Linked DNA regions of Homo sapiens: region 2 is linked to region 1. The links come from fine-mapping of genetic effects on gene expression. A gene starts in region 1. The other region holds a variant in brackets. All regions are shown on one strand. Distances are from middle to middle. Region 1 holds the start of NABP1 (nucleic acid binding protein 1). Region 2 overlaps LOC124908062 (a long non-coding RNA gene).

Region 1 (5,322 bases):
TCAGTGTATTTGCATTTATCACTATAGGGATGATTTGTGTGGCTGTTGCTGCAATCATTACTAAACATTACTTCTGAGTCTTTTGGTTAAATTGTTTTAGGGAAATTAAGAAAATACTATTTGTTTGAGTTTTTTTTTTTTGTTTTTTTAGTTGCCAATTATGTTACAAAGTGGATTATACCTGTAAGGTGAGTGAGCACACTGTGGTTCTTGTTAATTTTTTAAATTGTTAAGTTTCACTATACAAGATATTTAAAATCAAACAGTACTTGGTACAAACAACTGTTTCATTGATGTTGTAATAGTTTTAAATAGATGGATAGTGAAAACAAAGTGAAAATAATTTTGGTAATTCCAGAAACCAAAACCTGGGAGTGAGCATGGGTACTGAGTGCTGGGTAAAATTTACAACAAAACCTTTATCAATGAGGACCCAGATAACAGAACCTTCTATGTCCAGGATTCTAATGGATGCCCTTCTGTATTACAGTGGATCTCACTAAGCATCTTTACACTAAAACATGGTGTTGAGGTTCTGGATGTAAAGTGGAAGAGTCCATCATCTCAGAGTAAGCTTATGTTTAGGCTGTGAAAAATGAAGGCTTGAAGAACAACAGCCTTAGAGAAAAGAAGACCATGAAGTAATCTTGTGTATGTATTAAAGAATCAGCAATATAATCATTATGACCTAAATGAGTAGACTGAGTGGCAGATCTATTTCACTGAATGGTAATATAAGAAAAGATATCTGCCTAGCAATAATTGTCTCCTTGACATCTCCTTTTTCTTTTTATTAACCACATCTTTGGGAGTGATTTAGAGGTAGCTGAAACCAACTAGCCTGGGCTGAACAGTTTCTGTATTGCCCAGACCATCTTGTTTCTCAAGGCTGCCTTTCGTTTTGGTTAATGAGAAAGCATATGGTTGCCATTTCCTTTCTGAGAACTGCTGAGTTAGTAGGGAAGGAAGTAGATGTTCAGCTGAGTTCTGTCCTGTGGGGGAAGGGAAGGGCTGAGCCACAGCTTGGAGTACCAGCTTCTGCTTTTGTGGGGCTTGATTTTCTGTGTCTGATTTCTTTTTATAAAATGTTCATATAATTAGCCTGAACAGCCCAACCTAATCCCTTTTCTGGGGGCAAATGATTGAGAGTTGAGTGGCAAACTTTCTTTGCCCAAACTCTTGGCCGTAACTCTTAACATTCTTAATTGGTTTCCTGTCTATTCTTAATCTTTTGAAGATCTTGTCAAACCTTAAAAAAAAAAAAAAAGAGCTCTGCCTTAAATATTGCTTCTGTGAGAATATTTTGCCTGTTTAAGAAAATACAGCTTTGAGTACAATCCAATTGAAGTGTCAAGTCCTGCCAGATAACCATGGTAGAATTAGAGCTTCTGAGCTGGATTGGGATTGAGGTTGGACGCTGGCTCTGCCATTAACTGGCATGTTTCATCATTTGTTTTATTTGATGTTGAAATTATGCTTATAATTTTATTTTACACCACTTTCCAGTATGACATCAGTGTCTTTGGCACCTTGGGCTTTATTAGTTCATGAAATGGAAGCTTCTGTTTCCTTAAAAATGCCTTGACTCTCTTGCTAATGTTGTGATAATGTTTCCAACTCTTTCTAGGGCTATAATATCTATGCTGCTTGTTTGCAAATACTTGGGAAGTGGTGGTTGATCTAAAGATACTCAGAAAGAATGGGGAGAAAATTAAGGCTTCTGACACTTTTCCCAACATTTCTGTTATCATCACCAAGAATTAACTAGATGATTCTTTAATGCCCCACTACTTTATTCTGCTATTTTATTTCTTCAGTCTGTTTTTGACTCTTATAATGACACCACTGGAAGTTAAGTCTAAACATTACCTTTAGGCTGGAGAGCTCTGGGGTCAAGATTGACTAGATTTAAAACCCAGCTCAGCCATTCTCTAGCTATCTGGTCTCTGGTGAGTTCCATCGCCTGTAAAACGGGGATTAAAAAGGGGAAAATACTGAGTATGTACTATTTGCTAGGCACTAGTTGGACAATTTATGATCCATTTAATCAATCTTCTGCTAGGCAGGGATCCCCATTTTATTATGGTTAAAAAGCTGTAATAAAAGCCAATTGACCTAAAGCTCTCACAAGTAAATAGCTGGAGCCCAGGTTTGTCTCTAAAGCACATGCTCTTTTCACTACGCGACATAAAAAAAACTTTATTAATCTTTTTTTCCAGATTATGTTTCAAGGGTTCCCACTGCTGTTGAATAATTAATTCCTTTTAGATGTACAAAAGCAAGTGCAAAGTAAAAGAAGAAAAGCTAAATGGGGAAGGTGTGTAATATGAGAGGCAGGGGGTAAGGAAAAATGAGAAGTCTGCAAAGGAATTTACGTCCTATCTGCTTAGCATTACACAGTGGAAGCCCACGTCAGACATTTGTGTTGCAGTCCTGCCTGCTCAGGGGTTGCTGGGTGACCTTCTGCAAATTACCTCATCTTTCTGGGTTTCAATTTAAGTATGCCTGAAATGAGGCGGTTGAATTGATCTCCAAATTCCCTTCTGGTGCTAAACTTCCAGCCTTGTAGCCACTGACGCCTTCACCATCCCAGCCTGTTTTCCCTTGGTACCGGACCAGCTGCCCTTGCCCGAACCCTGTTCTTCCTCGACTGCGAACTTTCTAACGTACTCACAGGTTCTAAACTCTACCGTTCCTCGTGACCGAGGGACTAAAGGGCCCGGGCAGGGGCTCAACTCTGAGAGAAAAAAAGGCAAGAAAACTCCAAAGTTGGACAGCAAGCGTCAAAAGACTGCACAGCAGGAAGGCGAAACCGAACAGAACTGCTGCTGCGCGGCGACAGCTGAAGTGGGTGGAGAACGGGAGGGCGGGGGAGGCGGGGCCGAGAGCGATTGGAAGGACGAGGGGGCGGAGCCCGCGCTGACAGCCCCCGGGGAGGAGCGAGGGAAGCTCTGCGGGCTGCGGCGGCCGGGTCCCGCCCCTTTGCTTCCCCTCCCCAGCACCAGGCGGGCGTGGCAGCAGGCGTGCCGACGCAGCGTGACTTCACAAGGGGAGGGGCGGGCCGAGGGTCCTGCCGGCGCGCGGGCGTGTTCATCAGTCGCTGTTTGGGACGCTGGGTGTGCGGTGTTCTGTCTCCGCTCCCGTTTCGCTGTCACAGCCCGTTCCTTCCCGGAGCCCGGGACAGGCTGGGCGCGCGCCCGTGTGAGTGAGCGGGACTCAGGGCAGAAGTGTCCCCTCACTGCGTTTTTTTTTCCTTTTATCCAAAGAACGGGGCAGTTAGTACGCTTGCCTTCCTGTCGCCCGGTTGGGAGCGGGGTTGGTGTGCGGAGTGGTTCGCCTTTTTTTCTTTAGAACTTGTGAGCCTTTTTTTTTTTTTTTTTTTTTTTTCTTTTTTTAGGCTCAGTGCTGTCCGGGCTGGTTTGCCCGGTCCCTGACTAACGGCTTTCTGCCCCTTCTCTCGCCACCCCTGCCCAAGGTCGCCCCTCTGCCTTCGCCCCTGTCCCGGGAGGGTGGGAAGCTTTGACCCCGCCCTGCCCACTCGCGTCTCCGCAGCCGTAGCCGCGCCTGTCCCAATATGAATAGGGTCAACGACCCACTTATTTTTATAAGAGATATTAAGCCCGGACTGAAAAACTTAAATGTCGTCTTTATTGTCCTGGAGATAGGTAAGTGGGGTTTGCAGCCTACTCCACCGCCCGCTGTGCCTCCCGGGGCGGGAGACAGGGGCGCCGGCCGCTGCGCGCCCGGGGCTCCCCTCCTCCTCCCTCCCCTCCCCCACCCACGTGGCTCTAGTGGCCTCCGCCCGAGATCGGATCCTACCTGAGGCGGGAGCCCTGGGCTTGGTCACTTCCCACCTTCCAGATGTATTAAAATACCGGAGGAGGAGTTAGCCTTTCTGGATGTCCTCATTATCTAACAACCCCTCCCTTTGATTTTTAAATCCTCACAGGACGCGTGACCAAAACCAAAGACGGCCATGAAGTGAGATCGTGCAAAGTAGCAGATAAAACGGGCAGCATCACTATTTCCGTGTGGGATGAGATCGGAGGTCTTATACAGCCAGGGGATATTATTCGGTTGACCAGAGGGTAGGTGTGCAAAAAAGTCGGGGGACCTAACAGTCTGCAGAATCGGGATTGGCCGGCTCCTGGGATCTTGGCAAGCCCTGAAGTCCCCCGCCTTTTCTGTGGGCCACTCTTGAGGAGTTTTGAACTCCTTTGGTGTTAACTTTGGGTGGTGGGCAGCGCTGGGATGTAACAGACCTTTGCAGTGAAAGGCAGTCGGTTTCAGCTGGGAAATCCGCGCCTCTACCCCGGTTTACAGGTTAAGTAGATTTTTAATTATTATTATTTTTTGGGACCGAGTCTCGCTCTGTCGCCAAGCTGGAGTGCAGTGGCGTGATCTCTCCTCACTGCAGCCTCCGCCTCGCGGGTTCAAGAGATTCTCGTGCCTCAGCCTCCCAAGTAGCTGGGACTACAGGCGTGTGCCACCACGCCCAGCTAAGTTTTGTATTTTTAGCAGAGACGGGGTTTCAGAGTGTTGCCCAGGCTGGTCTCCAACTCCTGACCTCAAGTGATCCGCGCGCCCCAACCTCCCAAAGTGCTGGGATTACAGGCGTGAGCCACCACGCCCGGCATAGATTTTTAGTTCTATTCTGAGTCAGTGAGTCTTTTTAGGAGACTGGTATAGTCCATATTTTTTCTTTTTTATAAGTTGTTTTCTCTAGTGTAGTTGCCACTCAGTTGTTTCCCACCCCTTCTCCATTTTTAATGACTTGAAATCCTGGCCAGTATTTTACATATGTTATTTAGAAATGTGGACATAAATGAAAATTATAGGTAAAGGATTTAGCATATTCTGTGATATGTCAAATTTGTACTTGGAAAAAGAGGGAAACTTTACAGTATCTGGAAGGCTCATTCTCCAAAATGATTTCTTGTGTCTTCTGCTGTAAGGTGGATGTTGCGCAAAAACCAAAGGGATACACAGAAAATGTTTGGCAGAAAGGCATCTACAATACCTTCATCCAAAAGAGTCAGTTGGCGGATAGGTGGCTTTAAAAAATACTAGAACTTTTTTTTTAAAAAATAGATTGCTTTTAGAAATTTACCAAATTTTTATCTTAGGAAGATAAAAGGGCAGAAAAGGATCTTAAAAACAGAATTTGGAAGCTTTTGAGATCAATAAAATTGTAATAATTTATCATTAACTGCAGGGAAAGTGGTGGAGATTGATGTTGGCCTAATAAGTAGAATCTTAGAAGTATTGGAAAGCACTGAGAGTAGGAGCTTAGAGCTCCTTGGTGTTACCTTGCAGGCTTAC
Region 2 (5,383 bases), 32 kb after region 1:
GCAGTGTCAGAAGTATAGAGCAGTATGGCTATTTTTCCAGCTGACCTTCCTAGTGGTCTAAGCTCCTTATTAGCTTCAGAGCTGCTGCTGTCCTGCTTCATCTGTCTTTTGCCCTGAGTTGGGGACTACGGCAGAGTGTAGGTTTCCAACTGTTAATCGAAACTTGTCATGTTAGGTGCAGTGGTTAAAATCATCAGCTTTCTGGTCTCTCAAGCCAATCACGTTCCCATTTGATGGAATATTCCAGTGTTGAGCATCACCAAGATTAACTACTTTAGCCTAAAGCTCCCTTTGGCCTGATAGAAGACAGTAATACATATACAGATTCATTTTGAGTGATTGTACAGATTAAGTATTCAATTTTTTCCTAAATAATAAGCTAACATTGTGTTAGATTTGAAACAATGCACAAGGCCGTATTGTGTTTGATTAACCTTGACTGTGGGTGCTTTTGTAGCTTAGGCAGCTGGTTTGAACAAACTTGCAAATTCACAGCCTTACAAAGAAAGTCATTAATTTTTTATCATTTTATAAAGTAGGAACTTTGTATGTATTTACTGATAATGAGGGGACATATGTAGGTTGACATAATTTATTGATACTTTATTTCACATTTGAGTTTTGTGACCAAATACTTATAAATAACATCCTGGGATGTACATATTTTCTCACCTATAGTATTTTTTCTTAGAATAAAATCAATGAGAGTGTATTGCCACTGAGACTTCTGAAAAAAGCAACTAATAGTCGTTAAGACTTTGGAGGCTGAATTTTGGCTTTGCCTCTTATTAGCTGTGCAACCTTGAGTAAATCACTTACCCTCTCTAAGCTCAATTTCTTGAGCTTAAAAACGGAGACAATATCACTTGCATGTTAGGGTTGTTCTGTATTAATTGAAATAACCTATGCAAATTGCTTAGGCCAGTGTTGGCCACATAATGAAGCACTTAATTAGCATAGCTATTATTATTATTTCTAGAAATAGGATTGCTGGCTTAAGTGTATGTAAAAATATTGATGCATATTGCCAAAGTTTATTTTAAATTTTGAATATAAAGTTGTGGGTCTCATTAATGAACATATTATAGTAAGAGGTAATAGGCATGTCCACAAATGCAAGAAGCTGCTCCTACTATTCACTTGTTTGTTTTCTCTGTTCTGTCTTCTTCTTATAACAGCACCTTGGTTTTCCTTTGGAGAAACACCTTGCTCCCATTCTCAGTCCATGTAGTTCAATGGGGTTGATCCCATCCTCTGGCTTCAGAAGGGAGCAAAAGTATATGAGGTGGTCCTGGGTAATAAAAATATCATACCCGACTCCGCTCCTGGACACAGTGATTGGCTCAGTAATAGGCATGTGACTTGAGCTGGGCCAATGAGAACCCACTGTAGGATGTTTACTGACTGATTAGGAAACTGTCCTCATCCTTTTACATCCTTAGCATCCTTAGGAGATGCTAATCTTGTTGACCATCTTTGCTCCCATACAGAAAAATTCTTCTGGGGAATAAAGCATAGAGAAATGAAGAGCTAAGATACAGAGGAGCTTCCCAAGACCATGTTTGAACATTTGTAAACAGCCATGCCTGGACTTCTGAGTTAAACGAGTCAGTATATTTCCTTTATTGCTCAAATCACTTTTTGTGTTGGGTCCTTTTTGAAAGGTGGCCAGATCTGCCCAATCATATTATGCTCCTCAAGGACACACCCTGTGTGAGGAATAAGCAGGGTTTCTACCAAGTCAACTGTCAGAGTGATTTACCTTCCATGATATTTCTGAATGATGGTAGACTCAAGTTAATGTGAGTTATGTGATGCCTGTCTGTCATTGGATGAAGATCTACACTGGACAGTTTCAGGTTTCTTTCTAAACCATGACTGAAGCCATAGATTACCTGATAACCAACCATGGTTCTATAAATGTCTGTACGTGTCTATAAAAGTCAATGCAGAAAATTAAAAAAGAAGTCTGGGTCGGGTGCGGTGGCTCAAGCCTGTAATCCCAGCACTTTGGGAGGCCGAGGTGGGTGGATCATGAGGTCAGGAGATCCAGACCATCCTGGCTAACACGGCAAAACCACATCTGTACTAAAAAAAATACAAAAAAATTAGCCGGGCATGGTGGCGGGCGCCTGTAGTCCCAGCTACTCGGGAGGCTGAGGCAGAAGAATGGCGTGAACCCAGGAGGTGGAGCTTGCAGTGAGCCGAGATCGCGCCACTGCACTCCATCCTGGGTGACAGAGGGAGACTCTGTCAAAGAAAGAAAGAAAGAAAGAAAAAATCCGAATGGGCTGTTAAAATGAAAATCTGCA[C/T]ACTGCATCTATTGGTACTAATTTCAAAGACTTCTTTCCTGTAGGTTTGCATTGCAAAACATAAACATTGCTTATATTTGATTTTTTCATTTGTCCATAGTGATTATACAAAGGCTGATACAGAGCACCCATGTGGAGGGGTCACAGAAGGTAAAGCCAAAACATAACATGAAAACCAAATATGGCAGGGCTTTGAGCACCAGTACAAGGCATTTGCATGTGATTCTTTGCAAAATGGAGAGTTGTTAAAAGTTTTGAATAAGGACGCTTCTAGAGGATTAATAGGGCAATAATATGCAGATGAGCATAAAAGGGAAGAGACAGATGCCTGTTATTGGGCCATTGCAATATTTCAGAATGAGATAAAGAAGTAGGGCAATGGGAGTGAAAAGAAAATGATGGATGGGAGAGACATGGAGAAGGAGGAATAAATAAGAAGACTTGGCCTCCACAAGAATATGGGGCACCAACGGAGAGAGAAAAGTGAAAGATGAGCATACAGTGATGTTTTAAAAAGTGAGTTTGGGAAACTGCTTTTGTTCAGTGGAGGAGCTTGCGGAGAAGATAATGAGTTTAGTTTTATACGTATTTGAGCCCTTTTCTGTTTGGCTGTCAGCTCTCCTAGAAGCTGAATGTGGTATGTAGAGTGGGATGTAACCATGAGGTTACCCTGGAACTCAGAAACTGCTATAGCTATAAAGAGAAGTATGAAAAGTAACTTAAAGAACAACGACCTTTATCCATAGCCTGGCATTGTCTTAACATATGTAAAGAAAAAATGGCTTCTTTAGGAATTGTTTGGTAGTGAAATAAAGAAAATGGTGAGTCATGGAGACAAAATTTGGCAGTTCAACAAGAGCACCATTTAGTGGCATGCTGCTTAGGTCTGGTGTGATTGCCAGATGTGGCCCAGTGTGTTGATGGATGGATGCACCAGTCTATTTTAACCTTATGCCACTTCATCATTTGTTCTAATTTTATCCTAACCAAATCTACCTTCTAATTATACTTTGGTTCCTCATCTAGTTTCTAGGGCAGAAGAAAAATTCCTTGTGAGTAGCAGATCCCTTTACATTGTTTGTTATTAAATTGTCACTTCTGAGTTTCCACAGTGTTGAGTCATCACCCTCACCATTTATCCAACCCTGGGGTGCAGGCAAGACTGAATTTCCCTCTTTATAAGACTGTAGTCCAGTCTCTGCCTGGGGGTGACCTACCAGGTCAAGGGCTCCCTGCTAAGCCCGCATGGTAGATAGGTGACTGACCTTCCTCCTGATATGTTCTGGCTTTTCCATGACCACTTCTGCTCTCTAACGCCAAACATACCAGGCAACCACGCATTCAACAACAAGGCCTCTAATTTGCTAGGAGGGTTGTCACAGACTGCAAGGATTAACAGCTAGAACATTTTTCCACTTGGGGAACTTGAAGGCACCACACAAATCCTATTTACTTCATTCACTCATTTGTGTGTGTGTGTGTGTGTGTGTGTGTGTGTGTAAAATCATAAAGTTATTCTTAATCGCTATAGGAAAAAAAAGAGAAACCAAACAAACAAACAAAAACTGTTAATGTCCCTATGCAGAGGCAATATGCACTTTGCCTGCATAGTTTGCACTTTTGCCTATTTCTTCCTAGGCAATTTCATTTCTACTTTAAATTTATATGAAATTTTAAAAGCTTTATTATCTGGTTCTCAATACCACTGTAGATTAGAAGTAGCAATTTAGAGAAAGAGAAGAAAAAGAAAAGTCATAAAAAGTAGATATAATTTTTTAAAGTGAAGAGTGCTCTGGGGTCACACACAGCTCAGTAATCCTGAGGTCAGTCACTGCATTGTGACTGATGTAATAATACATTTATATCTTGATGACCTCAAATTGTCATTAAATGGTTAAATTAATTTTGGTATATATCTTTTAAAAGTCAGAAATACAAAAAAATACACTTTTCAACTATATTGTTCAAACTGGTTAAAAAACATAAGAAGTGAACCCTTAGCTGTCTAGAAAACCTAGCTACAGAGAATTATTCCTTTTCACTGGGTTACAAATAAACAAGATCCTATAGTTAAAACTACTGGTTTCTTCCCAGTATCCATTCCACCATTCTTCTGCTATTTAGAAGCCATGCTCTTGGTGGGACTGACCACACCTCTGGCTCCAGACATAGGCTGTACTTGGCCTAAGCTACTCATGATAATCACATCTGCCTGCCAGAGTAACTAGTCCAGGAATGAGCCTGTAGCCATGCCGTACACCAACAGCTCATAGCATTTCTCTGATCACAGGGATCATACATCTGCAAATTGGGGTAGACACTGGCCCCAATTTATCAGTCAGAATAAAACCCTTAGCTTCTGTTCGGTGGCTGTGGAAGAGAGGCTCTCTTCCATCATCTGAGATGCACATTTGAGTCCTGGAACTACAGCAACAATTATCTTACCATGAAAAAGCCTGCCTGAGAATTAAAGCAACCCATGGAAGACAGCAGAGCTGAGGGAGATAGAAAAGAAGCCAGAATCCTGAAATCTACTCTATATCTGGGCTTGAGTCAATAATTGTCATCTGTGTTTAGGCTGTTTTGACTTGCAAGAAAGCACAAATGTTGTACTGTGCTTTGATGGAGGTGATGGTAGGCCATCAGCAAGTACATGTCCGGCACTTGTGTTACGGACATGCATCTAAAGTTCAGGACACCAACTGAGGATGGGCTTGAGTAACATGGAGGGAGATGGTAGCATGCCACACAGGAGCTGCTCAATATGTAAATATTAATTGAGTGTGTTTTGAGTAATCAGAATGGGTTGGGACTTGCTGGGGGAAAAGATAAGATGGAGACTAGAGATCTGAAGACTGAAAAGTCACTTAGGATCGGGAGAAGTGGGAACTAGTGAAGGAGGCTCTGGAGTAGATAGGAAGTGAGCTCTAATATTGCCACATTGTTGTGCCTAATGAGAGAAGAGAACTGGTGAACTACAATGTCAAATCCTTTAGAGACACCAAGAGAATCAATAGACAAGCTTGGTAATTTGGAGGCTATTGCTGACTGGGTGGAATGCATAAAAACCA

Evidence for each region. PIP is the estimated chance that this variant, and not a neighbour inherited with it, causes the effect.
Region 2: its variant is fine-mapped to the expression of NABP1 in whole blood (INTERVAL, PIP above 0.99).

The regions. Positions count from the first base shown.
Region 1 is chr2:191,675,041-191,680,362 of GRCh38, forward strand. It overlaps NABP1 (nucleic acid binding protein 1), which reads left to right and starts at 3,096. Exons shown (of 6, transcript NM_001031716.5): 1 at 3,096-3,665; 2 at 3,950-4,088. The coding sequence starts at 3,575. RefSeq lists silencers at 703-997, 2,788-3,137, 3,738-3,797 and enhancers at 945-1,054, 2,648-2,727, 2,937-3,439, 4,267-5,322.
Region 2 is chr2:191,707,322-191,712,704 of GRCh38, forward strand. LOC124908062 (a long non-coding RNA gene) reads left to right here. Exons shown (of 6, transcript XR_007088698.1): 2 at 1,491-1,607; 3 at 2,413-2,462. Among named protein-coding and RNA genes, the nearest start is that of NABP1, 32 kb to the left of the region's middle. The variant C/T (reference allele first, on the strand shown) is at 2,313.